Linked DNA regions of Homo sapiens: all the other regions are reported to be linked to region 3. Evidence: microRNA targets listed by miRTarBase, many of them from high-throughput screens and not tested one by one. Region 3 holds a microRNA gene; each other region holds the end of a gene's coding sequence.
Evidence for each region. The annotated mature microRNA hsa-miR-6511b-5p reads CUGCAGGCAGAAGUGGGGCUGACA and lies in region 3 at 2,646-2,669, shown strand. An mRNA with a match to its seed (bases 2 to 7 or 8) in the 3' UTR can be bound and repressed. Matches are read on the target gene's strand: a 7mer-m8 pairs with bases 2 to 8, a 7mer-A1 pairs with bases 2 to 7 and ends in A, and an 8mer does both.

Region 1 (7,114 bases), not on the chromosome of region 3:
GACTGGAGTGAGGTGGGGAAGCCAGAGGAGAGAAAAGGTGGGAGGGAGGAGAAAGGAAAGGGTTATTGTCTTAGTCCATTCCTGCTGCTATAAAGGAAATACTTTGGACTGGGTAATTTATACATTTCTCACAGTTCTGGAGGCCGGGAAGTGCAAGATCAAAGCCTGGTTAGGTTCTGTGTCTGGTAAAGGCTGGTTCTCTCTGCTTCTAAGATGGTGTCTTTTTCCTGCACCTTCACGTGGCAGAAGGACAGAAGGGCAAAAAGGAAATAATAGACTTCCTCAAGCCCTTTTATAAAAGCACTAATTCCATTCATGGGGCAGTGAATCACCTCCTAAAGGTCCCACTTCTTAATACTACTGCATTGGGGATTAAGTTTCAACATGAATTTTGGAGGGATATGAACATTAAACCATAGCAGTTATCTTTGAAGCAGAATAGAAATTCTTATGTTGTAGGGTTCAGAGAGTATAATACCTAGAATTTTCAAAATCCAAGAGGATTACTCTTACCTTTTTGGGAAAATGTGTTGTGTGAGAAGATAATTTTCATGGTATGAACCCAAAGTCATAGCACTCTAAAAAAACCGCATGCCTAGAGGGAGACAGCACTCTATGGAATCATCCCAGAGAACCCGACAAGTAGGTAACAGCCAGTAACTTACTGAGCTGGGAGGATTACAGTGAACTTTGGGTCCAGCCAATATAAGTCATCTCTTCTCTTCAAATGATTCCCGAGCTAGCAGAGGTCCCCCACTAACGTAAGAGCAGACAGATTTCAAGGAAGATGCATGAATTCATTCAGCTTTAAAACATTTATTGAGCACCTACTACTTGGGCTAGGTGCTGGGAATACAAAGATGGGTAAGAGTTGGTCCTTGCCTTTAAATAAAGAGCTTACATTCTAGCAAAGGCTGAAGGGGGAAGTCAGACAGACAAATAAATGAGCAAAAGTGTTAGAGCGCTAAAACAGACGTTTAGATAAGGTGCGGTGGGAGCATTAAAAAAGGTGGTGGCACATTATCTGTGTGGAGCTCACTGGCTCACGGAAAACTTAGTGGAGGTGGGGTAGGCTTTGTGGAATGACAGGGTAGCAGTTGAGGTAGGGGGCGGCGTTCCAGGCAGAGCAAACCACAGGGCAAGCGGAAACAGCATGAGCGGGCAGGGAGGCGTGAAACTGCTTGTTCAGCTCTGGGATCGCCCTCACACCCCTTTGTCTCCAGACAAGGAGGTGAAAACGGGAAGAAAACCAGTTCGTTCCCTCGCGGTAGGGCACGTCTGAAGAAGTTTGGGAATATAAATCCTAGCAAAGAGAGCTGCAAGGAAGGATCTAGCCAGAGGAGATTTGTAAGAGCTTACAATGGGAAATAAAGTTTCCCATTGTAAACCTTGCTTGGAAACCCCGCAAGGTTTCCGAAAGAAGGCGGCCCAGGTGGCCTGCCAGGGCTCAAATGTGCTATCGCGAACATGCGGTCCTTGAAGGACCCCGCTCCCTCTCCCCGCCTCGAAGGCTAACCCCGGCGGACCTGTCGGGCGCGGAAAGCCCCCTTTAGGTCCCGCTCCCTGGTCTCGGACCTCTCCCCTCTTCCCGCCCCTCTCGGCGACTCGCTCGGCGCGGCCTAGGACCGGTGGCGACAACTGCTGTTGCACCGGCAGGCCCAGGCCAGACACGCGTAGGCCCAGGCCCGACGCGGGCGGCAGCCTCTCGCGCAGGCCCAGACCGCGGCGCGCGCCGCATCCACGGGCTCGAGGCTCTGCAACCGCTGCGACTTCAGGCGCCCGAGGGTGGGCGGGCGCGCGCCTCCGCAGCTGCAGGGGCGCGCGCTTGTGGGCTCATTCTCCCACCTAGGTTTAAATTGAACCCCGTCTCGGTCCCCCGGTTTTGAGAGGTTTCTCTCCTCGAGCCGCTGAGTCACGCAGCCCAACAGTAGGAGTGGCTCGAGGCCTACACGTCCGCGAGTTCGCGGGGCGCTGGATGGAAAAGGTGGGTGCGCGAAAAGGGGGGCTCTCCTTCCTCGGGGACCCAGATCTGTGGCCTCCGTGGGGAGATCTGGGCCCCCGAGTAAGGACTCACCTTCCCGGGTACTGTGGGCCCAGTCTGGGCTTCTCTTTGGGAGCGGACCGTGGCTTGGGGCGCCTCCCCGAGGGGACCCACGCGCCCGCCGCTCCAGCCGCCATTTCCCAGCAGGCCTCCAGGGGGCCTCCCCGCCGCTGCCTTCCCGTCGGCGGCGCCGGGCACGGGGGTAGCCGCGCGGCGCAGGCAGGGACACGCCTCGGCGCCCGGGCCAGCGCGCGGACAATGACCCCTTCTCCCCTCGCCGCCGCCTCCTCCCCGACACCGCCCCCTCGCAGCTCACAGGCAAACCTATTAGCCATTCAGGCCGACAAAACCCCGCGGCCCCGCGCATTGTCCCGCCGAGCGCCCGGCCGCCGTCATTAGCCCTGATTACGCAGAGCCGCCTGACAGCCCCGCCGGCCGCTCCACAGACCCCCCATTCACGGCCGCCCCCGGGCTCCGCCTCACAAAAGGAGCGGAAATCGTCCGCGCTCTCGCGTCCCCGTTGAATAGAGCGAAAAGCTGCTTCTCCTCTCCTCCCGCCCCATTCACATTCTCTTTGGATACAATATTTTTTTCCTTTTTGTTAAAATTAGGGAGAGGGAACGAGGTCAAGGAAGACTTTGCTTGAGCTCTTTGCCTGTCATTTGTTTAATGTAAACAAAGAGCAAGCCCTCCCCACCCCCATCGTCTTCTCCCCTCCCTCCCAGATTTTTTATAAACAAACTGGCGAAGGGAAAGGAGGGAGTGACGGGTGGAAGTGGAGTGGGTCATTAAAGTGGAGGCGAGAGGAACTGCGGCATTTGGGGAGCAGGGGCCGTCGTTTTTTTTGGTGAAACTGGAGTGTGGTTGAAATGTTTATAAGCCGGAAAAGAGCCTGACCTGGGGCTTGGGGTAAAATCTTCACATTGGTCAGGTCCGTTGAAATATTTAATATAAAAATGCTCTTTCCACTCTGCTGGAGTAGCTGCTTTTTGGGAAATTGTGACAGAAGAATTGCAGGAAAAGAAAGGAAGGAAACCCATTATATAGAGATTTTGCCAAATTCAGAAACCTTCAGCCTTGCCATTACCTGGACTTTTTTTCCCCCCAAAACCCTGAAGACCAGAATGAAGCTGATATGGAAAAAGTCTTAAAAAGAAACCCTTTAAATGTCCTTGGGAAGATTGGAAAGATTAAAATAAAATAAATCTCTGTGAAGATCTGGACTAATTTCCAATATGTGGTCACCAAAGAATTGGTTATTCACAGAGGCAATTAGGTGCCATCACATTACAGATAAACATTTAAAAAAATCTTACAAGTAATGTGTCACCCCCTTAAGATTCTAAAGTGAAATTAAATAAATAAATATCCAGATTGTTGAAACAGAATAGCTACTTTAAAATGTAGGCAGCTTGTTAATTTAAGTAAATGGTAGCTGTAGTTTAAAGGCTTTTGTCAAAGCAGGAATTAAAAATGCTCCATCACTGTTTGGTCTTCTCTTTTTGTCCAAGCAATAAACTGTCACTTAAAAATTATTTTGTAAAGAGAAAGCTTAGTTTCTTAGTTACCCTATTTTCTTGACACTGCGGAATGGACATTTTCTTCTGCTTTTAGGTATCATTTGAAGGGGTGGGTGGAGTGGGATTTTTAGAATCTCAAATTCTTTTACATTATTCCACTAATTAGTTATTTCCCATCCCTCTAGGACTTGGAAGCATAAACTTAAGAGAAAATTTGCCAACAAACTTCTCCAAACACTGGTTCTGGACAGCCCCATAGCTAAGGGTGGGGTGGGGCTGGGGAACAAGAGTGGATATCCGTGGCTACTCCTTGTCAGATTAAGGACTAGGATGAGGCAAAGGAGGCACTTAGAGTGCAAAATTTAAGGAGGCACTCAATCTCATGTGCCTTGCACTTGCTGCACTTGCATAACCTTGACCGTGAGTCCCCTCCTGGCCTCACTCTAGTCCTCGCCAGCCCCTCGTTAGCATTCTAGGAACTACCTGGGGCTCTAGGAAACAAAATTAAGTACTGAGGAAGCTCTACAATGGGAGCCTTTCAGGACCCACAGGAGGGCTTTTGCTTGCTTTTGGAAAGAACACCAGTTTTATCACGAAAACTTACCCACTCCTTCCATGTAAAGCTCTTGTGCAAGAGAGTTTTGATTTTCAAGAATTCTCTGGATAAGGGCCACCATACACAAGGACAACATTTATAAAGCCCAAATGAGCCAAATCTATTCAAGCGATTTAGAAACCAAAAATCAACCCTTACTCTGTCCTGGGCTTCCATTGTCTATCTTGCCGTTTGGCTGCTTTTTGTCTTCCATGACTTCACTTATTTTTGTTTGGTTTGCACTTTGGCACTTCTGCCTAAAGAAGTTAGCAGGCTTCTGATCCAAAGAACATCTTCTAAGGACAGAAAGGCAAATGGAAAAGGCTGTAATTGGGGGATGGGGACAGTAAAGAGGGAAGTCAGCTCAAGTGATTTAAAGATCAATGTCAAATTTTATAATATGCAATCTGTTTCACTAGGAACAAAATTAGAGACTCTGGCTAGCATTTATTTTCTTAGTGCAAAGATGGTAGATGTTTTTGCGTTGTATATGCATGCATTTGTTCATGTATAGGTGCATACATGCATGTGCACGAGGAAAAATTAAATGCTAAAAATATTTTATGTTTTAATCGAGGCCATTACCAGGACAATGAGGCCCTTGATGACTTGTTCTATGCTTAATTCGGAGATTAGGTTTTTAAAATGCCAGTTATTTCTACAGCCTTGTTTTACCCTCAGTATGTGACATGATTACATCCTTTCCCCCATCTCAGTATCCCTCTTGTTAAAAACCATTCATTTGATTAAAACCAAATTCTGCAGCAAGAAGATGTTAGTCTAATTATTTACAACCTCTTCTATCATCTTTTGTCTTATTTTAATAATAGCTCAATCCTAAATGCAGTATATGCTCACTCTAGCATGATCATGGGTGCCTGCTGCTTTTGTATTGGAGGGGGCCTTGAAGGAGACAGAAAGCCTTTCTTGCTGCAGAGCCTGAGTCAGGATAGTTTTGCATTTTTAGAAAATAGGACTCACTTATTGAGTCCCATAGTTTGGCTTCCTAAATTGCTCCTGAAAGCTGTTGACACTTCATGTAAACGAGTGTCAAGTGGACAAGCCATAATTACCTGTGCTGGGGATGCGGGGACTTGCCTTAGAGAGGACGCTCACATGTTGCCAATTTCTAGCCTTAAATATATCACGTGTATGCATACATACATATGTTTGTATAGGTACATACATATGTTTGTATAGGTACATACATATATGCACATACGTGTAATTTGACGTGGGAGGTGGTTATAGACCTACCATAGGTTGTTTAAAACATATACCAGGAAGCACCAAAGAAGGCAAAAGATATATAGGTAAGACCTTCCGGAGACCATTTGCTCAAGGGTCCCTGCATGCCTGGTGAAGGGAATGATATTAATAATAATAAGAAGAAAAGGAATCTGAGAGCAGCTCCCTTAATTAAGAAGGTTGCCCACTAGGTTGTTTTATTGTTTGGCTTCTCCACACAGAACCCATCACCACCAGCCTGCATGTTTAGAAACAGCAAGTTCCCCAAGCTACAGAGAAACCTACCATGGCGGTCTCTTAAATAAGTAAATAAACAGCATATATATGTTTTGTTAAAAAAAAACTTTAAAGCGAAAGTTATACATATGTAACAGCGTCCTTTCGACGTGAAATACCCATGGGAGAATCTGGGCAGGCGCTCAGCTTGCAGTTCGGGTTCCGAAGGAGACTTTGCAGCAAAATCCTTAGGAAAAAGCAAAGCAAGAAGAACGTGGTGCTGGGTCAGGCCTCACCGCTGGTTCCCGTGGTCGCGGCCAAAGGGCGCCAGTGAAGCCAGGCCGGCCGCGGGGTGGGGCGGGAAACGGCAACCCGAGCCCGCGGGTCCCTGGTCACCTGGCTTCTGTGGCGCTGGATTTGCAGGTCTCTCATCTTCTTCCCCTCTTTCATTTTGTTTTTCTCGTTTTTACACTGGAATCTGCTTCTGAGCATCCTGGATGGGCAACTCAGATGTCGCACTCGCTGTCGCTGGACGTGATGGAGATGGCTGAAGTGGCCGCCTTGCTGGATAGACTGGCGGCCGGGCTGGTGGCGACGCCCAGCACCTCTGGCGTGCCGTCGCCCTCCGCCCGTAGTGCCCGCCCGGAACCCTGTGACAGGACCTGCTGCTGGAGTCTACGGGGAAGAAAGGGAACACGGGTCACAGCTCGTAACACAGCCGCCCGTCGCCCGCCCCCACCACCTCCTGCGTCCCTCCAGCCCGGCGGCTAGAGGTTCTTCCGAAGACCCCAGCAGTTAAGGCGAGGATTACTCGGCAAGGCGACAGAGGTCGGGCAGGAGTCCGCGGCCGCCCCTCCGCGGGTCCCTACTGTTGTGCCCCACCATGATTCGCGCCCTTTCTCAGCGCCGCAGCTCCCAGGTCTTTTATATACTGGGCTTGCAGTGTCCTCCCTGTTTGTTGTGCACTTTTGGGAGATTTACAGGACTGTCAGGAAATAAACGAAGTGTGGGTGACAAGGACAGATCGGTCCCAGGGACATGGGATACCATTTCTAACGGTGCGTCTGCCTGGGGCTTACGCCTGAGCAAGTGCTCCCGCGATCGCGTTGGATCGGGTCGGCCCGACCTAAAGGCAAAAAGGATTGTAAGGAGCATTTGGGCCTGGGGGATGAGGCCGGGCTCTTCCGCAAAATGTTTGGCTAATCGAGATCCACACTCCGGGAAACGAAAAGCCTCGGCCCACGGACTAGTTTGCTGTTTTGAGACAAGAGTGGCAGGCAGCGCATGGGAAGAGGAAAACTCGACTTCCCATTTCTCAAAAGTCCATTGAAAACTGTTTTCAAAGCATTAGGGAGGGATATACCTGGGCTTTGAAAATGATAATTAACATGAAACCGACACATTGCTAATAAGCCAGGCTTCGATTAATAGTAGGAGCCTGTGCCCAGGCTGACAAGAATTAGCTTTGGGTCTTGGGGTCCCTAACTGTTTGTA
Region 2 (7,114 bases), not on the chromosome of region 3:
TAGGAGACGGAGCACCATGGCAAATTTCTCCCATTCTCCCGACTTCCCTAGCATGGCACTTTTTCAATGGTGGATGTGCACACGCATCACGTTGAATCAGAGGGTGTCTCCACGACTGTACACATTACACATTCCTATACCAGTCACACTATGTTTAAAACACAAATTGTGCAAGTGAGTCTTCGAGAATAACAACTTCTAGAGGGGGGATGGTATGGTAGAATTCTGGAAGAGTGTGCTGTCTGGCACCCATGAAAAACCCTTTGATCCACTTTTGCCATCAGCTCTTTGACACCCCTCTCCTACCTACCAACAGGAACAAATCAAGAAAATGAGCAAATCACATGGCAAGAGTCCATTTTGAACAACTTTTATTATACGTTTAGTGTTCTCTATACAAAAGAAATCAGTTTTTTTACAGTGATTCAAAAAAAATTCAGAATAATTTGGCCTTTTCATTGCTCATGCAGTCAGTTTATAAGTCCATGTATTAGACGGCCCTCCATGGCCCAGAAGTCTTCCCTGCTGAAGGTCGTGTGTGACACCCTCAGATACGCATCTGTCACTGACAAAGTTGGTTAATGCAAAATAACTCGCAAAAAAGGAAAGAACATGATGTGAGAGGGGTTAAAACAAGGTCTGGCATGGAGTTAAATGTTTAACCAATGGAAAAAAGATCAGACCAATTTGTGTGTGTGTGGATATGTAGGAAGGGATGGAGACGCTGGGAAAAAAAATTCCCCACGGGAAAGAACAAATTGGAATGGTGGGGGATATGGGTGTGTGGTGGGGGCGGGGCAGGAGGTCCTCCGGGGTCCAGCATGGGTCGGGAGTGGGAGCAGGACAGAAGGTGGCCACGTCACAGGCGACTGATGCTCAGCTCAAGGGGAGTGTGAAGAGGTTGGCAAAGAGCTGGGGAGCCGGGCAGAGGGACAACACTGACTGAGGACATTGCAGTTGGGAATCAGAAAAAAAGGGGCAGCTCAGGGGCATCTGATCTGCCTCATTTTTGAAAAAGAAACAGAGTAATGTACAAAATTCTGGATATCTTCTCCCAGAGTTTTGTGTTTATTGCTTCACTGAAGTCTTTACATCTGTTGAACTCCAGCCCAGCAAATCCCAGGGTGGCAGCTTGCATGGGCCCTGCTGCCTCTCTGCACCCTGTGGCCATGGGCAGAATGGACCGAGATGCCCTCACTTCTGAGGAATACAGCACACTGAAGGCCCGATGTGTTACAAAGCAAGAGACACCATTCTACGGGGTACGGTCTAGGGTTCACAGTAACAAACACCAATCAGCTATCCTATTCCACTGGCCCAGATCTGCCCTTAATTGCATGACTGGGTGAACCACACACAGGCTGATCACAGACAGACTGATCTTGGTCTCAGAAACAATCCTGTTTGTCTTTCATTTTGGGAGGCATGTGGGGGATGTGGGAGACGCAGTAAAGAGGTATGAGAGGGTGAACCAGAAGGACAGATCTTAATACCTCTGTTTCAAAGGAGGCAGCTGTGGTGAGATGAAAGAACACTGACTGGACAAGGAGTCAGAAGGCCCAAGTTCAAGCCCTAACCTTACCTTAGTTTACCAGCTATGTGATCTTGAGCAAAAATCCCTTCACTTCTGTGGATTTGCATATCCTTGTCTGTACGATAGATCATTTCAATGAGATCAGCTCTGGGATTCCTTCACATGCCGAAATCCGATTCTGTCCTAAGCTAGATGCCTTGTACCTATTTCCATTCTCCTCATTATGGAACACCCATTTAATACTAGTGTGCTGATAGGAGGAACAGCAGCTTCAGGTGAGGCCTGAGACACTGTTTGGTGGACGCTTGTGGCTCTCCTGGATGGTTCTCCTTTCTCTCTGATCCTTCTCTGAATGTGTCTCAGGAAGGCCCATTATTAGTAAGGAAGGGAAAGAAAGGACACTTCCCTGGGCTTGGGCTGTGCAGGCTGGGGACAGCCACAAAGTCTGGCTTGGACTCACATGGGGTAGCCCCTGTCTAGGTTAAGGAATGCTAGGAGATGGTCAAGGGAGGGCACTGGTCTGACTCTGCCCGGCTTGCCTATGCCTCCCAGGGCCTTGGTCTCCTCTTGACATATCAAGCTCTTTGTTTCATTGTTTTGAGGCCTCTCTATTTTTCCTTTTTAAAATCAGGGCCCTCCTCCATGCTACTCCTTGGCCACCACGCAGAGCTCAAGCAGGATCCTTTGCCAACTAACGGTGTAGATGCAACCGCAACCATGGGCTTTTGTGTGTTTGGCTGGGGCTGGCCGGAGTGGTGACTGGGCAGGAGGTCACTCTGCACCAAGGTGTCATGAGTGGGGAGCGGTGCCTTGTGCCGGCCTCCCAGGAACCTGCTGGCCACTGAGAAGGGATTCTCTGGCACTAGCCCCAGCCGACGGAAAGCCCGAGAGGCTTCCTCTCCTCAGAGAGTTAGCAAAGCAGCCTCACAAAGACAGACAAAAATGTGCTATGTCCCTGCTCCCTCCATCAAATGGGCTGTTTGTGATGCCCTAAGACTTGGCCCTGCTCCAGCACAGGGCGCCAGAAAGAGCCCGCTGCCCGTGCCATTGCTTGGGCAAAGTTTCCCACTCCTTCAGCTCAGATGCTCTCTCTAGGTGCTGCCAACAGGAATTACCTAAACAGGGCCCAACCCTGGTGGCCTTTCCCACTCCTCTAAGGTGCGTTCCTCATCCACACAGAGCCCTTTGCATCTTATCTCACGCAACTTGGATGTGGACTAACCCTCTCCAAGACAATGTTGGAATCTGGATCGCTATCCCTTGGAAGCACTGCTTGGCAACAGGGTTGTGGTCTGCTGTATGTATGTGAGCATGCGTGGGCACTGGGTGTGGCAGGGGAGCTTGTCCGTTAGCTGGGAAACCCACACATCCTCGGGTTTCCACCGTCTTCCCAAGGCTGTGGTCAGGGAAACTATGAATGCGCTATGTGGGCTCAGTTGCACCTTGCAGGGCAAGCAATGTTGGCACTGGCTGATTTTCAGACCTGTGGTCACCTCTCCCGACTTCAGGGCTTGCCAGGGGCAGGGGCAATGGGGTGGACCAGATGTCTCCAACCTCTCAGAGCACAAAGGAGGGTGCTGGTTTGGCTTTCCTGTTAGCTTAAATTCAACCATCTCCTCAAAAGCAAGGCAGGAAAAGATGAGTCCCATTCACCATCACCCAGGCAAGGTGGGAGGCAGCTGTCCCCTGACCGATGGCAGTGTACTTCCCGAACCCTGGCCTCGACAATCCTTCAGGGGAGCCCGTGCCTCTCTGTAGAAAGAGGTATTCAAGGAGGAACTGAATGGGAGACAGAGGCATAAAAATACAGACAGGTTAAGGAGCTTGCCCCAAGAGGCAGAGCAAAGAGGCTCAGGAAGCAGGACTGTTTCTCAAGCCACACCGTGGTTCTTGACTGCTCTGTCCCGCCCAGCCTTGGTGACCAGATGGACCAAGCTCTCCCTCAGAATCCCTCTCTTCAAGCTCGCAGCCATCAGTGGCTTAAGCGGTAGAGGGAAGAATGCTCCCAGCTCAATGGCCACTGTGTCCTAGCACTTGATTTTAGGACTGTCAGCCCCATGAGGGCAGGGACCACATCTAACTCACGCGCCATGGTATCCACAGCTCAGGCCTTAGTTCAGACTGGATTTCAGATTATTTGCTGAATGAATGAATGAATGAATGAATGGACAAATGAGAGCACAGGAAACCACAGCTCTTAGGGCTGAGCATATAGGTGGGATTGCAGCCTAGTCAAAGGAACTTCTAGAGTTACTGTAAGATGCCCAGCACTTTCCTCCCAGCCAGACAGACTGGAGCGCCGATGGCATGGTGCTGTCCTGGCTTCACTGTTGGTATGTCTTGGGGTAGTTGCTTGGGAGACCCAGCTGGCAGGCAGTACTGGGCAATTCCACTTTCCTGCTGAGCTGGAGTGGACTCTGACATGGGCTCCATGGAAAATGCACCCTCCTCTTCCCCAAAGGGGCTGCCTCCTGAATCCTGCAATCCCCACGCCTCAGCGTTTGATCTCTCTGACCACCTGCCTTCCTTGCTTGGGGAAAACTTAATTCTTCAGCCTCAGATTTGCTTCTGCTCAGAGGGGTGTGATGGCGTGGTGATGGGGGGCAGCTCTCAGCACCCACAGAACAGCAGCCTGAGAGAGGGCTAACAGCATTTTCTTCATACACAAAGGACAGTACAGAGCCTGGCAGGACACTGGAACGAGGTGCAGAGGCAGGCTGCGGGCTTACTTCTCCCCAAGACCCTTACGAGAGAAGCAGCCCTTCCCAGTCACCAGGTGGTGTGGCAGACTTGCTCATCGTCCCTTCCTGCCCTAAGGGCCTGCTTTCGGTGCAATGGGTACGCTGGCATGTACGGTGCAGTATGGAATGAGTGTCTGAGAAACTGACTACTCTGCTCAGATCCAAAGCGTTTTCTGGAAAGGCCAGTCCTTTAATTCAGCTCACAGGCACACTTCCCTGACATTCCCTTCAGGGACAGTGGGCCTAGTATCCAAGCAGGTGTTGGAGGAAATCCAGGGGAGGGGCCCTCCAAGCTCACACCCCACCCCCTGCTGTTTACCCTGTCCCCTTGCACTGTGATAAGCTGCCCCTCAGGCGTCCAGGCAGCAGCCCTAGCTGAGGCTTGGCCCAAATGACCATTACACACTCTCAGGTTCAAACAACCTTATTGGCTCAGTTCTGGGCTATGGTTTCTTACCAGCAGAGAGTGTGTGTCTATGGGCTTGACCTTCAACTGAATGATTATTAATGATGCAAGCATTGCTAATACCTTTGCGGCTTAAACATGTGGCAAATGTTGCTTTAATAAAGTCACGGAAGGACAGAGCCCTGGTCTGGCCCAGGCCCCCTGGCTGGCAGCCGGAGAGGCTCAAATCGGAGGCTGTGCCCATGGCAGCTGATCCATTCCTGGGGATCAGCTTCACCCTCCTGAAACTGACCTCAGCTGCAGAAACAGCTAAAGGGTTCCTCTTAGACTCAAGATCTCCCCCTCTCCTTCTCTGTCTCTGAGGCTAGGTACCTTTGGTTTCAAAAATGCATTAGGTGGGGAGGATGAAGGCAGCACCTTCGGTCTGAGAACTGCAGGTCTGCGAGTGTCTCCATTTGGGGTGACTGGTGAGGACGTGTGTTGAGTGGCCACTTCTGGTCCTGCCGGAACACTTGCATAGGCTGCCCTGCTCTCCTGGAGATAGACGTTGCTGGAGGCTTCAAGGCTTGCAGGGGGGGAGCTGGGAACCTGGGAACTCCAGGGACAGATCAGCGCTGCATAAGGCATACAAAGAGCATTGAGTCCTCCCTAGGTGGGGGCATCACAACACTGAGTACGGTGCCACCTCAGGGTCCCCTGATATGTATACACCCCAATGAAAGGGCAGACCTGCTCAGTCTTGGGGCAAGTCCCCATCCACACACCATGTCAAACAAGAGCCTCAGTGTCCTACAGAATTGGCTGAGAAGATGATATCTGCTAGAGATGGAAGGGGAGCAGTGCCTTATGCCCCAAACACACCAGCAAAGCTTTTGCATCACAGGGTTCCATCTCCTCGAGGGTGGCAGCATGGGCCCTGGCCACGTGGACAGGTGCCCTCTACTCTGGACAGGGTGGGTGTGGCCCTCTATCTACATCCTGGGTTTCACCAGTGAGGAGGCATGAAGTCCAAACCCAGCCTTTTTCTTCTCTCTAGAAGTGAGCACAGTGCCCCCAAGACCAGACACCTGATTTTCTTCTGCTGGAGGTACACAGTCACTGGCGTTGAAGTCCTTTCTATCAGTGCCCACTCCTGTTCCTCAAACGTCTTCAGAGTCAATGCAGCTCACATCTTAGATATTCCAGAGAAAAGGGCAGGGGAGGAATGAGGAGCAAGAGGTAAACACACCTCCCAACCAAACCAGAGAGCAGCAAGGAGGCCTGCGCACCTTCTCCCTGCCAAAAATACTGTCATTTTCCAGAAAGGAGCCAAGCCCAGCTCAGCAACTGACAAGGCCGAGGCAGAGGGGCTGGGGGCCAGGGGAGGCATATGGCGAGAAAGGCATCCTTTGGAAATGCATTGGCCCAGAGGTGGTTTGAATATTACAGCCTGTCTACGTGTTCTGGTATGGATTCAATCCTTTTTGCCTATCTTTGCAAAAAGGATTCTCCTGGGGGAGAATCCACTTATTCTTTCTTTTCCAGGGACTCTTTTTCAAAAGGAAAAGAAAACAGAGACATTGGGTCTGGAGGGGAAGATGCACAAAGCGAAATTAAGACAATGAGAAGTCCCGTAACCAACAGAAAAGGTGAGCGTGTGCCGAGGCCAAGGGCGGACAGTGTGGTGGAACGCTCGGGGTGGCTGCGAGACCGGGCAAGGGGCCAGGCTCCCTCCAGCTGAGCTCAGCCACGGCTCCAGCTCTCCCACACTGGTGGCACCCGGGGCTGAAGGGGGGTCATTGGGAGGGGGCTTGTGGGTGGCTTGGTGGCTACTGGTCCTCACAGCTTGGCAGACCCCCATATCGTACCCTTGTTACTGAAGGTGGTGGTGGCTTCGTGGTAGGTCTGCAGTGGTTTTGTCTCCCCTTCTCCCCTCCTCCCACTTGCAAAGTGGTGGCTGTGCCTGGGTGGGCTCCGTTAGGCCAGAGAGTAGATAGCATTGACAGGTGACGTGGCCTCTGAGCTTTCGTTGCCCTCTGTTTCCTCCTTGTCCTTTTTGACCGTGTACTGGCCGATGAAGGAGCCGTCTTCATTGAACTGACCCTCGCCACCCTCGCCATAGTCCACCAGGCTGTCGTCACTCTCCTGCTGCTTGATGGTGCCGTCCAGAGATGTCTGACTGCCCTGCAGGGGCTTGTTGTCCTCATCACTGGCCAAAGAGAGACAGAGAATCTCAGGTGGGGTGAGATGGGGCAGCTGGCCTCCTGCCAGCACATGCCCTACACAGCTCAGAGAGGATGGGATCCAGGAGACCGCCCAGTCCAGCCCCCGCTTCACCCTCCCCTGTCCAGCCTGCTTTGCAGAAGGGAAATGGAGGCCTAGAGAGGACAAGCACCTTCTCTAAGGTGAGGTTGCAGGTCAGGGCAGGGCAGGGAGTGGAGCCCATGCTTTTGG
Region 3 (7,114 bases):
GTGTGCCTCCCCTCACTGCTCCGAGCTCTCTGGCTGAGGAGCTGGGGCAGGAGCCCCGGGAGGGTCTGAGAAGACTCAGAGAGAGGTGGACTCTTTGTAGCTGGTACTAGGTTTGCTTTACAGATGGGGAAACTGAGGCACAGAGAGGTTGAGGCATTAGTAGTACTACATGGCTGGCTGGAGAGCCGGACAGTCAGTGTCCCAGCCCGGGCTTGGCTCTCATGGCATGCAGAGCCCCGGGCACCTCCTCTCCTCTGTGCCCCGCGTGGGACTCTCCAGCCCGACGGGAGGTGTGTCCAGGAGGCGACAGGCTAAGGGCAGAGTCCTCCACAGAGCCCAGGCTGACACCAGTCCCCCCGCAGAGGTACAGCCCCGTGGTGGAGGCCGGCTCGGACATGGTCTTCCGGTGGACCATCAACGACAAGCAGTCCCTGACCTTCCAGAACGTGGTCTTCAATGTCATTTATCAGAGCGCGGCGGTCTTCAAGCTCTCAGTAGGTGGGCGGGAGTGGGGAGGGGAGGGGATGGGGCGGGGCGGGGGCGGGCTCCACCTTCACCTCTGCCTTCTGCTCTGCTTCATGCTGCCCGAGGACGCTGCCATGGCTGTGGTGAGTGGAGGGAGGGACGCCAAGCAGGGCAGGCCTCTCACCTGCCACCTGGGCCCACTGATGCCTGTCCCTGCAGCTGACGGCCTCCAACCACGTGAGCAACGTCACCGTGAACTACAACATCACCGTGGAGCGGATGAACAGGATGCAGGGCCTGCGGGTCTCTACAGTGCCAGCCGTGCTGTCCCCCAATGCCACGCTGGCACTGACGGCGGGCGTGCTGGTGGACTCGGCCGTGGAGGTGGCCTTCCTGTGAGTGACTCAGGGGCCGGTTTGGGGTGGGCACCAGGCTCTTGTCCGGGCACCAGGCTCTTGTCCCGGCTCCAGCCTCAGCCGAGGGACCCCACATCAGGGGGTTGCTTTTCTGAGCCTCGGTTTCCCTGTCTGTTGGGAGGTACTGGGTGCACAGGAGCCCTGAGGCTGCACGGGAGCCGGGAGAGGCCTCAGCACAGCCGGGTGGGCCCTGAATGGAGGCCCGGGGCGTGACTGCAGAGTGGAGCCTCGGCTGGGTCCCAAGCACCCCCTGCCCCGCCACCGCGCACCTGTGCCCCGCCACTGCGCACCCCTGTCCCGGTTCACTCACTGCCTCCCACCGCCCCGGCAGGTGGACCTTTGGGGATGGGGAGCAGGCCCTCCACCAGTTCCAGCCTCCGTACAACGAGTCCTTCCCGGTTCCAGACCCCTCGGTGGCCCAGGTGCTGGTGGAGCACAATGTCACCCACACCTACGCTGCCCCAGGTGAGGGATGAGGGGGTGAGGGGGCCACTGCCTTTCAGGCTCTGAGCACGGGGCCCCCCCAGTCCCCCAGTCAAGCTGCCCCGCTTCCTCCCCAACAGCCCTCACTGTGACCTCACCTGGGCTGATGGCTTAGGCCCCTACTGGGGTGAGGGAGGGGCCAGGCGTGGGAGGAGTGGACAGGGAAGCTGGGCCCCCTGAACTGCCCCCCACCGCGGCCTGGCTCTTGCTGCTCTGCTGCCCCGAGTGCAGCTGCACTTGGAGGCGGTGCCGTCCTCACCAGGCAGCCCTCAGTGCTGCTGCACCTGTGCTCCGTCCCGCACGTGGCTTGGGAGCCTGGGACCCTTAAGGCTGGGCCGCAGGTGCAGCCGTTCACCCCGGGCTCCTCAGGCGGGGGGCTTCTGCCGAGCGGGTGGGGAGCAGGTGGGGGTGCCGCGGCTGCCCCACTTGGGCCTGTCCCCACAGGTGAGTACGTCCTGACCTTGCTGGCATCTAATGCCTTCGAGAACCGGACGCAGCAGGTGCCTGTGAGCGTGTGCGCCTCCCTGCCCTCTGTGAGCGTGTGCGCCTCCCTGACTGGGGCCTGCTGGTACCCCAGAGTGGGTGTCTGTTCCCCAGTCCCTGCTTTCCTCAGCTGGCCTGATTGGGGGTCTGCCCAGAGGGGTCGTCTGAGGGGAGGGTGTGGGAGCAGGTTCCATCCCGGCTCAGCCTCCTGACCCAGGCCCTGGCTAAGGGCTGCAGGAGTCTGTGAGTCAGGCCTACGTGGCAACTGCGGTCCTCACACCCACACATACGTCTGTTCCCACACGCATCCCCCCAGGGGCCCTCAGTGAGCATTGCCTGCCTCCTGCCAGGGTCCAGCTGGGTCCAGTACACCAGAACGCACACCCCAGTGTCCTCTGCCCTGTGTATGCCCTTCCGCCGCCCAGGTTGGAAGGTGGCAAACCGGATGAGTATCCTGGGAGGGGGTGAGCTCACCGGCAGTGGCCAGGCCCCTGGGAAACCTGGAGTTTGGGAGCAGCATCCTCCACGGGTCCCCCAGACCTTCCAGCAGGCCAAATAGACCTGTGTTGGAGGTAACCCCACTCCCACGCCAGGTGCTGATCCGCAGTGGCCGGGTGCCCATTGTGTCCTTGGAGTGTGTGTCCTGCAAGGCACAGGCCGTGTACGAAGTGAGCCGCAGCTCCTACGTGTACCTGGAGGGCCGCTGCCTCAATTGCAGCAGCGGCTCCAAGCGAGGGGTGAGTGTTGAGCGGGGTGTGGGCGGGTTGGGGATGGGTCCCATGGCCGAGGGGACGGGGCCTGCAGGCAGAAGTGGGGCTGACAGGGCAGAGGGTTGCGCCCCCTCACCATCCCTTCTGCCTGCAGCGGTGGGCTGCACGTACGTTCAGCAACAAGACGCTGGTGCTGGATGAGACCACCACATCCACGGGCAGCGCAGGCATGTGACTGGTGCTGCGGCGGGGCGTGCTGCGGGACGGCGAGGGATACACCTTCACGCTGACGGTGCTGGGCCGCTCTGGCGAGGAGGAGGGCTGCGCCTCCATCCCCCTGTCCCCCAACCGCCCGCCGCTGGGGGGCTCTTGCTGCCTCTTCCCACTGGGCGCTGTGCACGCTCTCACCACCAAGGTGCACTTCGAATGCATGGGTGAGTGCAGGCCTGCGTAGGGGGAGCAGCGGGATCCCCCGACTCTGTGAGGTCACGGAGCCCTCCTGTGATGCCGTGGGGACCGTCCCTCAGGCTGGCATGACGCGGAGGATGCTGGCGCCCCGCTGGTGTACGCCCTGCTGCTGCAGCGCTGTCGCCAGGGCCACTGCGAGGAGTTCTGTGTCTACAAGGGCAGCCTCTCCGGCTACGGAGCCGTGCTGCCCCCGGGTTTCAGGCCACACTTCGAGGTGGGCCTGGCCGTGGTGGTGCAGGACCAGCTGGGAGCCGCTGTGGTCGCCCTCAACAGGTGAGCCAGGCCGTGGGAGGGCGCCCCCGAGACTGCCACCTGCTCACCACCCCCCTCTGCTCGTAGGTCTCTGGCCATCACCCTCCCAGAGCCCAACGGCAGCGCAATGGGGCTCACAGTCTGGCTGCACGGGCTCACCGCTAGTGTGCTCCCGGGGCTGCTGCGGCAGGCCGATCCCCAGCACGTCATCGAGTACTCGCTGGCCCTGGTCACTGTGCTGAACGAGGTGAGTGCAGCCTGGGAGGGGACCTCACATCTGCTGCATGCGTGCTGGGGACCAAGACCTGTTCCCCTGCCTGGAGCTTTGCGGAGGGCTCATCCCGGGCCCCAGAGATAAATCCCAGTGACCCTGAAGCAGCACCCCGACGTTCCGCTCCCAGCAGCCACACCCACCAGGCCCTCTCCGGCGTCTGCTTTCCACAATGCAGCCCCCGCCCAGGAGGGCCCATGTGCTTACCCTGTTTTGCCCATGAAGAAACAGCTCAGTGTTGCGGGTCAGTGCCCACATCACACAGCATCTAGCACGTAACTGCACCCCGGGAGTCGTGGGCATCTGCTGGCCTCCTGCCGGCCTCCTGCCCTGCTGACAGCTTGCTGTGCCCCCTGCCTGCCCCAGTACGAGCGGGCCCTGGACGTGGCGGCAGAGCCCAAGCACGAGCGGCAGCGCCGAGCCCAGATACGCAAGAACATCACGGAGACTCTGGTGTCCCTGAGGGTCCACACTGTGGATGACATCCAGCAGATCGCTGCTGCGCTGGCCCAGTGCATGGTAGGATGGCCCCACATGCTCTCCCCGCCCCGCATGCCTGCCAGGGTACTGGGTTCAGCCCCCCAGGGCAGACGGGCAGCTTGGCCGAGGAGCTGAGCCTCCAGCCTGGGCTCCTTCCTGCCATGGCGTTCCTCGGTCTCTGACCTGCTTCAGTAGCCTCAGCCATTCTGCTGTCCTGTGTGAACGCAGGGTGCCTCTCGGGGGACCCAGGGTGTAAAGAGGGGCCCAGATGTGGGGAGGGACTAAGAAGATGCTGCTCTGTGCCCTCCACTCTCCCCTCCCCTCCCCCTTCCCTCCCCTAGCCCCTCCCCTCCCCTTCCCTCCCCTAACCCCTCCCCTCCCCCTTCCCTCCCCTAGTCCCTCCCCCCTCCCCTAGCCCCTGCCTCCTCCCCCAGCCCCTCCCCTCCCCTAGCCCTTCCCCTCCTCCCCTCCCCTAGACCTTCCCCTCACCTCATCCCGCTGAGCCCCTCCACTCCTCCCCCAGCCCCTCCATCCCCTCACCCCTCCCCTCCTCCTTCCTCCCCTCCCTCTCCTCTCCCCCTTCTCTCTCCTTCCCTCTCCTCTCCCCCCTTTTCTCCACTTCCCTCTCCTCTCTCCCTTCTGCCCTCCTCCTTCTCTCATGTGAAGAGGTGCCTTGTGTGGTCAGTGGGCTGCATCACGTGTTCCCCAGGTGGAGGCCCTGGGTCATGCAGAGCCACAAAAAATGCTTAGTGAGGAGGCTGTGGGGGTCCAGTCAAGTGGGCTCTCCAGCTGCAGGGCTGGGGGTGGGAGCCAGGTGAGGACCCGTGTAGAGAGGAGGGCGTGTGCAAGGAGTGGGGCCAGGAGCGGGGCTGGACACTGCTGGCTCCACACAGGGGCCCAGCAGGGAGCTCGTATGCCGCTCGTGCCTGAAGCAGACGCTGCACAAGCTGGAGGCCATGATGCGCATCCTGCAGGCAGAGACCACCGCGGGCACCGTGACGCCCACCGCCATCGGAGACAGCATCCTCAACATCACAGGTGCCGCGGCCCGTGCCCCACGCCACCCGCCCGCCCCACGTGGCCCGTCCGCCCCATGCCGCCCTTTCCTCTGCCTCCCTCCTCCCCACAACCGCCTCGCCTTTGCCCCATCCCATCTTCGTCCCCCTCCCCTCCCCCCAATTCCCATCCTCATCCCCCTCCCCCAATTCCCATCCTCATCCCGCTCCCCCAATTCCCATCCTTATCCCCCTCCCCCAATTCCCATCCTTATCCCCCTCCCCCAATTCCCATTCTCCTCCCCCTCCCCCTTCCCTATTACCATCCCTTTTCTCCATCTCTCTCCCCTTTTCTCCATTTCCCCCCCGATCCTCCCCGTCCTTTTGTCCATTCCCCTCATCTTTCTTATCCCCCTTATCCTCCTTCCCCTCCCTTATCCCCCTTCCCCTCCCTTATCCCCCTTATCCCCTTCCCCTCCCTTTCACCCTGCTCCTCTTCTTCTCCCCTTTCTCTTTTCTCTACCCTTTTCCTTCCTTTTTCCTCCCTCTCCCCATCATCCCCCTCATCTTCGTCCTCATCCCCATCCCCTTCCCCCTCCCCCTCCACCACTCTCTCTCCAGCTTCCCTCTTCCTTCTGCCTGCACCTCGCTCTCTGCCCCCTCAGGTTCCCCCTTTCTCCCAGTCCCCACCCTCCGGCTCCCCCTTTTTGCCTGCCCCCACCCTCCCTCTGCCTCCCTGTCTCTGCACTGACCTCACGCCTGTCTGCAGGAGACCTCATCCACCTGGCCAGCTCAGACGTGCGGGCACCACAGCGCTCAGAGCTGGGAGCCGAGTCACCATCGCGGATGGTGGCGTCCCAGGCCTACAACCTGACCTCTGCCCTCACGCCCATCGTCACGCGCTCCCGCGTGCTCAACGAGGAGCCCCTGACGCTGGCGGGTGAGGAGATCGTGGCCCAGGGCAAGCGCTCGGACCCGCGGAGCCTGCTGTGCTATGGCGGCGCCCCAGGGCCTGGCTGCCACTTCTCCATCCCCTAGGCTTTCAGCAGGGCCCCGGCCAACCTCAGTGACGTGGTGCAGCTCATCTTTCTGGTGGACTCCAATCCCTTTCCCTTTGGCTATATCAGCAACTACACCGTCTCCACCAAGGTGGCCTCGATGGCGTTCCAGACACAGGCCGGCGCCCAGATCCCCATCGAGCGGCTGGCCTCAGAGCGCGCCTCACCGTGAAGGTGCCCAACAACTCGGACTGGGCTGCCCGGGGCCACCGCAGCTCCGCCAACTCCGTTGTGGTCCAGCCCCAGGCCTCCGTCGGTGCTGTGGTCACCCTGGACAGCAGCAACCCTGCGGCCGTGCTGCATCTGCAGCTCAACTATACGCTGCTGGACGGTGCATGCAGCGGTTGGGGCACACGCGGCCCCCTGGCCTTGTTCTTGGGGGGAAGGCGTTTCTCGTAGGGCTTCCATGGGTGTCTCTGGTGAAATTTGCTTTCTGTTTCATGGGCTGCTGGGGGCCTGGCCGGAGAGGAGCTGGGGGCCACGGAGAAGCAGGTGCCAGCTCTGGTGCAGAGGCTCCTATGGCCTTTCAGGCCCATGGCAGAGGGTGGGCTCAGGAGGGCCATCGTGGGTGTCCCCCGGGTGGTTGAGCTTCCCGGCAGGCGTGTGACCTGCGCGTTCTGCCCCAGGCCGCTACCTGTCTGAGGAACCCGAGCCCTACCTGGCAGTCTACCTGCACTCGGAGCCCCGGCCCAATGAGCGCAACTGCTCGGCTAGCAGGAGGATCCGCCCAGAGTCCCTCCAGGGTGCCGACCACCGGCCCTACACCTTCTTCATTTCCCCGGGGTGAGCTCTGCGGGCCGGCCTGGCAGGGCAGGGCAGGGCATCATGGGTCAGCATTGCCCGGGTTACGGGCCCCGTGGGGACGGCAGGCAGCGAGGGGACTGGACCGGGTATGGGCTCTGGGACTCCGACATCCAACCTGGCGGAGCCTGGGCTCACGTCCACTGCCCCTTCCCTTCCCAGGACCAGAGACCCAGTGGGGAGTTACCGTCTGAACCTCTCCAGCCACTTCCGCTGGTCGGCGCTGGAGGTG
Region 4 (7,114 bases), not on the chromosome of region 3:
CCCGCCCCTCAACTCCTTCCAGCTCACCTGGACCAGGCCTGGATCCCACTTCCAACAGGTCCTCATGCCAGCTCACACCCCGAAGAACCTTGAGCCGAGCCAACTCAACACCTCGCCTGGTGCCGTCCCAACAGAGCCTTCCATTGGCCCCCACCCCCTCGAAAGCCCTTTCCCAACAACTCATACACTAGCACCTGGGGATGAGGGATCAAAGACAGAAACGCCCTAAGCAAGAAGTATGAATGCCTTAGAACTAACTCTAATAGAGCCCGGGCACTGGAATGGCTAAAGAGATCACCTGACTAGATGGTTACAGATAAAGGTGGGGTACCTTACTCAAGACCACACCAGAAATTAACTACACAACAGGATCGGAACCTGGCGTCTCGCTTCCCAGCCTTAGACCCTTTCCCCACAGATGTTCACCAGTAGACCTCTGCACCCAGCTTCTTGCCAACATTACCCTTTCGTGGGTGTGGGTTTGGGGTTTTTGTTTTTTTTTAGAATGGGGTCTAGATCTGTCGCCCAGGCTGAAGTGCAGTGGCCACATCACAGCTCACTGCAGCTTCGAACTCCTGGGCTCAAGTGATCCTCCCCCCTCAGCCTTCCGAGTAGCTGGGACCACAGGTGCGCGCCGCCACGCCCGACTTCCTTACTGTCTCCGCTACTACTACTTTGTACTTCGGTTATTTAATCCTTCAAAACACTCGAAGTTAAAGCATTTTCATCCCATCTCAATTCGTAACCCAGGGAAGGTCTGCTCATACTCATTTCAGGTGAGCGACTTGCTCCAGTCCCGCCGTGCACGGCAGCGGGGCTGAAACCAGATGACAAAGCGCTGACCGTCGGGGTTCACTTCCCCGCCCCGCCCCTACCCTTGGCCAGGTGCGGCTGCAGCTTCTTCGCACTGAGGAGGCCGGCGCTGGAGATCACGGCATCCAGCACGGCGGAGTAGCGCTGCGTTTCGCACACCAGCGCGTACAGCTGCTTCACGTTCTGTGTGGCCGAGGGAGACAAGCTGGGTCGGGGGCTCCCCCGGCCCTCCTCGCCGGGCCCCACCTCCCGACCCCATCCGGGCCCGTCCCACCCCACCCCGGGTTCCTCACCCCCCACCCCTACTTGTGGCGCCCGGGCCCGCTACCTGGAAGTTGCTGGAGTACACCAGCCCCTTGATAGAGCCCTGGCGGCTCTCCACGCCGGCCAGCACGCCTGCCACCGCAGCGTACAGCCCCATGTTCCCGCGCGCCTTTACGGCTCTGTCGCAAAGCGCACCCGGCTCTGCCCCCGCCCGGACTTCCGGGGTCCAAGGGCATGCCCTTCCGGGACCGGAAGTGCCGGTCGAAGTCCCCCTGCAGGGTGTGTGTGTGATCGCGCACCTGCCGGGCTAGGGAGTGCGACGCTGCGGGCGCACCTGCTGGGGTAGGGAATGCGACGCTGCGAGCCCGTTTCGCCACTTCTTCTCCAGTTCTTCAGTCTTTGTCAATCTGATGGATAAATAATGGGATTTTACTGCTGTTTAACCGCAGTTATTGCGTTGAATATGTTCACATGTGTATTGGTCATTTCATATATATATGTGTGTGTATATATATATGTGTGTATGTGTGTGTATATATATATATATATTTTTTTTTTTCAGACAAAAAGACTCACTCTGTCGCGCAGTGTCGCGATCTTGGCTCACTGCAACCTCCGCCTCCCAGGTTCAAGCAATTCTCCTGCCTCACCCTCTGGAGTAGCTAGGACTACAGGCCCGTGCCACCACGCCCGGCTAATTTTTGTATTTTTAGTAGAGACGGGGTTTCACCATGTTGGCCAGGCTGGCCTCGAACTCCTGACCTTAGGTGATCTGCCCACCTCGGCCTCCCAAAGTTTTGGGATTACAGGCGTGAGCCCCCACGCTGGCCATAATTATGTGTCTCTGTTTATTGTCTTATCTTCCTCTGCCATGTGTCCTCCAATGGCTGTGTTCTCAGGGAGGATTTTTCTGTGTAATGGCAGAAAAGGTCCTAGCAACTCCAGGTCCACAATGTGGTTCATGATACCTGCCACTCACCCTGCACCAGTAACCACATTAGTCCCAGAGCCAAGCAAGAAAGCACGTGGGGTATTTGGGTACCTGAAATGGGCCGGTTTGGCCAAATTAAATGATGTAGTTATGATCCAGGCCTCAAAGCCACAATAACGGTTTTGTTTTTGCTTTTGATGAGGTCCCACTCCGTCACCCAGGCTGGAGTGCAGTGGCACCGTCATAGCTCACTGCAGCCTCGAACTCCAGGGCTCAAGTGATCCTCCCACTTCACCCTCCAAGTAGCTGGGACTACAGACGTGCACCACCACACCCAGCTAATTTTATCTTTTGTAGAAATGCGGTCTCACCATGTTGCCCATGGATGGTCTCGAACTCCTGGCCTAAAGTGATCTTCCCACCTCGGCTTCCCAAAGCAGTGATTACAGGCATGAACCACTGTGCCCAGCGAGGATTTTGTTCTTTTATCTTGAGATAAATGGTAGTCCTCTTAAGGGTTTTAAGTCATGGAGTGCTGTGTTCATGTATACTTCTTTAAAGATCAGTCTGGCCAGGTGCGGTGGCTCACACCTGTAATCCTAGCACTTTGGGAGGCCAAGGCAGGTGGATCACTTGAGGTCAGGAGTTTGAGACCAGCCTGGCCAACATGACAAAACCCGTCTCTACTAAAAATACAAAGATTAGCCAGGCATTGTGGCAGACACCTGTAATCTCAGCTACTTGGGAGGCTGAGGCAGAATCGTTTGAACCTGGGAGGCGGAGGTTGCAGTAAGCTGAGATTGTGCCACCGCACTCCAGCCTGGGGGATAGAGCAAGCTTCTTTCCCCAAAAAATAAATAAATAAATAAATAATCAGTCTGGTTACAGTGTGGGGATATAGGATGGAGGGGACAGAGTTGAGGCAGGGAGAGACCAATGGGGGTCATGGCAGTCACCTAAACAAGAACTGGTGGCCTGGACTGAGTTGGTGGCAGTGGAGTTCGGTTGAAGTTGGCAGTGTGACCGCTAAGTTAAATCCACAGAACTTGCTCAGGAAAAAGGTCAGGTCGAGAATAACTCATAGGTTTTCAGTTTGGGCAGTTGACACAATGCTGCTGTGTCTTTTGGTAGGATGGGGAAACCTGGGGTGGTGGAGTGAACAACGGCCACCCAGAGAGAGCAGGTCCTAATTCCTAGAGCCTGGAAATGTCACCTTCTATGGAAGAGATCTGTAGGAGTGATCAGGGGAAGGATTTGGAGAGAAGGTTATCCTGGATTATCTGGGCAGGTCCTGCATGGCATCACAAGTATCCCTATAAGAGAGAGGCAGAGGAAGGCCTCTCTTATAGGGAGAAGCGCAGTGGGTCACACCTGTAATCCCAGCACTTTGGGAGACTGAGGCTGGTGGATCCCTTGAGCCCAGGAGTTCACAACCAGCCTAGCCAACATGGTGAAACCACGTCTCTACTAAAAACACAAAAATTTGCTGAGTGCACGCCTGTAATCCCAGCTACTCAGGGGGCTAAGTTAAGGGAATTGCTTGAACCTGGGAAGTGGCGGTTGCAGTGAGCCGAGATCACACCACTGCACTCCAGCCTGGGCAACAGAGTGAGACTCTGTCTCAAAAAACAAAAAATAAGAGAGAAGCAGAGGAAGATTAGACCGGCACATACAGAAAAGGCCACGTGAAGATGGAGGCAGAGATTGGAATGATGCGGTCACAGGCCAGGAAACACCAGGGCATGGCAGCCACCACCTGAAGCTGAAGAGGAAAGGGGCAGGTTTTCCCCGACAGTCTCCAGAGGGAGCGCGGCCTTGCCGTCATCGTGATCTTGGACATCTGGCCTTCAGAACCATGAGAGATTAAATTTGTTTGAAGCCACCAAGTTTGTGGTCATTTGTTACAGTAGCCACAGGACACCACAGCCACAGGATAAATCTCAGGGATGGGGGAGTAGGAAGATCATGAGCGCGGTTTTGGACATGCCCTTGACGTCCAGGCGGAGCTGCTGAATGGCTGGAGCGCTACTGGATGTGGCCTGTAAGGGACGGGTCTCCCGGAGAGGGAACTTCTGAGTCATCCCTGTGGAAGTGATGACTGGAGCTATGGGTGTGGAGGGGTAGACAGCCAGAAGAGGAGCCTGGAGGCCCTCAGACCATAAGTGGTGAGGACGAGAGGCTGAATCCTCAAAGGAGACCGAGGAGAGGCAGGAGGAGAGGCAGGGCTGTGGGGAGGCTGAGGGTTGCTGTTCACCCCTGCTAGGCTCCCTCATGCCCTCTCACTGGTCTGTGCACCCAGTTTGACTTCCAGTGGCCAGAGCCAGCATCTTGGTTAGAAGGCTACCCCGGAGCTTCCAGGACCCACTTAGCCTATGAGTATCGTGAATCAAAGGGTTATGGGAGGCTAAGCACAGTGGCTCACACCTATAATCCCAACACTTTGGGAGGCCAAGGTGGGAGGATTGCTTGAGGCCCAGACCAGCCTGGGTAACATAGCAAGATCCCATCTCTACTAAAAATTTAAATATTAGCTGGGTATGGTAGCAGACACTTGTCGTCCCAGCTACTCAGGAGGCTGAGGCAGGAGGATCACTTGAGCCTGGGAGGTCAAGGCTGCAGTGAGCTACAGTTGCACCACTGCGCTCCAGCCTGGGTGACAGAGCAAGATCCTGTCTCTAAAAATAAAGACTCAAGGCTGGGCACGGTGGCTCACGCCTGTAATCCCAGCACTTTGGGAGGCCGAGGCAGGCGAATCATTTGAGGTCAGGAGTTCGAGACCAGCATGGTCAACATGGCAAAACCCCATCTATATTAAAAATAAAAAAATTAGCTGAGCATGGGGTGCACACCTGTAATCCCAGCTACTCGGGAGGCTGAGGCAGGAGATCACTTGAACCTGAGAGGTGTAGGTTGCAGTGAGCTGAGATCGTGCCACTGCACTCCAGCCTGGGTGACAGAGCGAGACTCCATCTCAAAAAAAAAAAAAAAAAAAGCAGACTTGAGCATAAAGTGCTGGGATTATAGGCATGAGCCACCATGCCCGGACTTTTTTTTTTCTTGTTTTCTTTTCTTTTTTTTTTGAGATGGAGTCTTGCTCTGTCACCCAGGCTGGAGTGCAGTGGAGCAATCTCAGCTCACTGCAACCTCCACCTCCCAGGTTCAAGAGATTCTCGTGCCTCAGCCTCCCGAGTAGCTGGGATTACAGGTATGTGCCACCACACCCAGCTAATTTTTGTATTTTTCATAGAGACAGGGTTTCACCATGTTGGCCAGGCTGGTCTTGATCTCCTGACCTCAAGTCATCCTTCTGCCTTGGCCTTCCAAAGTGCTGGGATTACAGGTGTAAGCTGCTGTGCCCAGGCTCTGTGCCTTCATTTAAACCCATGTCTCCTGACCAAATTGTCTCTAAGACTAAAAGAAATGTGAGAAACAAGGAGTCTCCCATAAACAGGGAGTGAGGAAGGCTTGGGAACTGCACGTGTTCGTTTGTTGGGTCTAGAACATGGATCCGCTCTCTTCCCACAATCTGCAGAGCAAGTTTCAGGCAGGGCTGATACTGCCTGCTGCGCAAGGGTGAGGACGGTAAGCAAGGGATGCCTGGTGCTCCTGGATGTTGCTTCTGGCCATTTCCCACCTCTCCCAGCTCCCACTCCTCCTGATATCCTGCCTTACATCCAGCCACCCTGAACTTCTCATAACCAGAGTCCGCACGCCACTCCCCCTTTTACAGGACTGTTCCCTCGGCTTGCCTGGCAAACTCGGGTCCTGGGCCCTTCTCAGCCATCAGGCGTGTGCCCCTCTGCCAGGCCTCCCAGACACCTGCTCCTCCTCTAGTGTTTTGTTTTCTGAGACAGGGTCTCGCTCTGTCACCCAGGCTGGATCATGCAGTAGCATGATCATGACTCACTGCAGCATCAAACTTTGGGCTCAAGCAATCCTCCCATCTCAGCCTTATGAGTAGCAGGGACTATAGGCGCATGCCACCATGCCCAACTAATTTTTTTATTTTTGTATTTTTTGTAGAGACGGGGGTGTTACTACATTGGCCAGGCTGGTCTCGAACTCCCGGCCTCCAGCAATACTCCTGCCTTGGCCTCCCAAAGTACTGGGATTGCAGGCATGAGCTACCCTCCTCTAGTATTTCTGTAGCTTGAGTGAACTTCTGCTGTTCTAGGTACCCACAGTTCACCATCTGCCTCCCCACCTGTCTGCGAGACCCTTGAAGGCAGGGACGTGACTTTCCTCTATCTTCCCCAGGCTCAGTTATAGAGCCAGCTATAGGCAGCTGCTTGGGAGGCGCTGGTTAAGCTGAATGGAGGAACCAGTGGAGCTGAGATGCCCGTGCCCGCAGCCACCAGACCCTGGCTGAGCTCTCTCCAAGGTTATTACCTGGAGGCCATGGAGTGGAACTTCTGGAAGGCAAGAGAGAGGGAGGTTAAGGCTAGAAGGTGGGAAGCCAGGGCACTGTTGGGAAGGGGAAGGCCCTGGCGGGTATGGGGATGGGACGCCTCCCTGTCCACTCACCCAGATGAACTCATGGTGGTCCTCATTGCCGAACTGTTCCAGCACACACTCGGCTTGGGCCAGCCGCTCCCGGGTTCCCTGGGCCTGCTCCAGCTGCATGTCCAGGGAGGCCACCAGGCCACGGGTGTGACCCCCTATCCCCTCCAGGCAGCGGGCCTTCTCCTCGTCCACCGGGTGGCGCAGCTCCTGGAACTCGCGGCGGATCACCCAGCTGAAGACATCCGACTCATTCTGGGACAGGGAGGGCTGCTCACTGCAGAGTCACAGCCGAGCTGCCAGGCTCTGTCTGGCTGGCCTCGGTGTCCCCAGGGCCTTCCTGACCGGGTTGGTCCTGGGACCTGAGTCTCAGGGGAGGCTGCATGGCCTGGCGCCGGGCAGGGAGTTCACCCCATGCATGGGGAGCCCTGGCGGTGGCCGTGGGGAGGGTGGCCCCAGCTCCCATTTCAAATGGAGAGGCTCTGCTTTGGCCTGTTTTAATTTTTAATTTTTTTTTTAACAGACAGGGTCTCACTCTGTTGCCCAGGCTGGAGCGCAGTGGCACGATCATAGCTCACTGTAGCCTTGACCTCCCAGCCTCAAGCA

Region 1: the mRNA of SIX6 is a reported target of hsa-miR-6511b-5p. Seed matches in the 3' UTR shown: 7mer-A1 at 6,038-6,044.
Region 2: the mRNA of NFASC is a reported target of hsa-miR-6511b-5p. Seed matches in the 3' UTR shown: 7mer-A1 at 5,248-5,254, 7mer-A1 at 2,978-2,984 and 7mer-m8 at 1,955-1,961.
Region 4: the mRNA of TRIM73 is a reported target of hsa-miR-6511b-5p. Seed matches in the 3' UTR shown: 8mer at 6,120-6,127.

Annotation. Positions count from the first base shown.
Region 1 is chr14:60,510,265-60,517,378 of GRCh38, reverse strand. SIX6 (SIX homeobox 6) reads right to left here. Exons shown (of 2, transcript NM_007374.3): 2 at 4,529-6,295. The coding sequence ends at 6,127. It also overlaps a transcript of C14orf39 not described here. Among named protein-coding and RNA genes, the nearest start is that of SIX6, 4.7 kb to the right of the region's middle. RefSeq lists a silencer at 2,128-2,297 and enhancers at 2,019-2,520, 5,594-6,365.
Region 2 is chr1:205,016,063-205,023,176 of GRCh38, reverse strand. It overlaps NFASC (neurofascin), which reads right to left. Exons shown (of 30, transcript NM_001005388.3): 30 at 355-6,869. The coding sequence ends at 6,638. Among named protein-coding and RNA genes, the nearest start is that of CNTN2, 24 kb to the left of the region's middle. RefSeq lists enhancers at 3,599-4,394, 4,395-5,192.
Region 3 is chr16:16,321,944-16,329,057 of GRCh38, forward strand. It overlaps MIR6511A2 (microRNA 6511a-2), which reads left to right and starts at 2,645; the gene lies at 2,645-2,711. It also overlaps the pseudogene LOC131696449 and the pseudogene PKD1P1. RefSeq lists enhancers at 1,307-2,162, 2,232-3,034.
Region 4 is chr7:75,404,488-75,411,601 of GRCh38, reverse strand. TRIM73 (tripartite motif containing 73) reads right to left here. Exons shown (of 5, transcript NM_198924.4): 4 at 6,533-6,763; 5 at 5,997-6,420. The coding sequence ends at 6,394. It overlaps LOC124901676 (a long non-coding RNA gene), which reads left to right and starts at 1,249. Exons shown (of 2, transcript XR_007060389.1): 1 at 1,249-1,419; 2 at 1,640-3,894. It also overlaps the pseudogene NSUN5P1. RefSeq lists an enhancer at 527-1,467.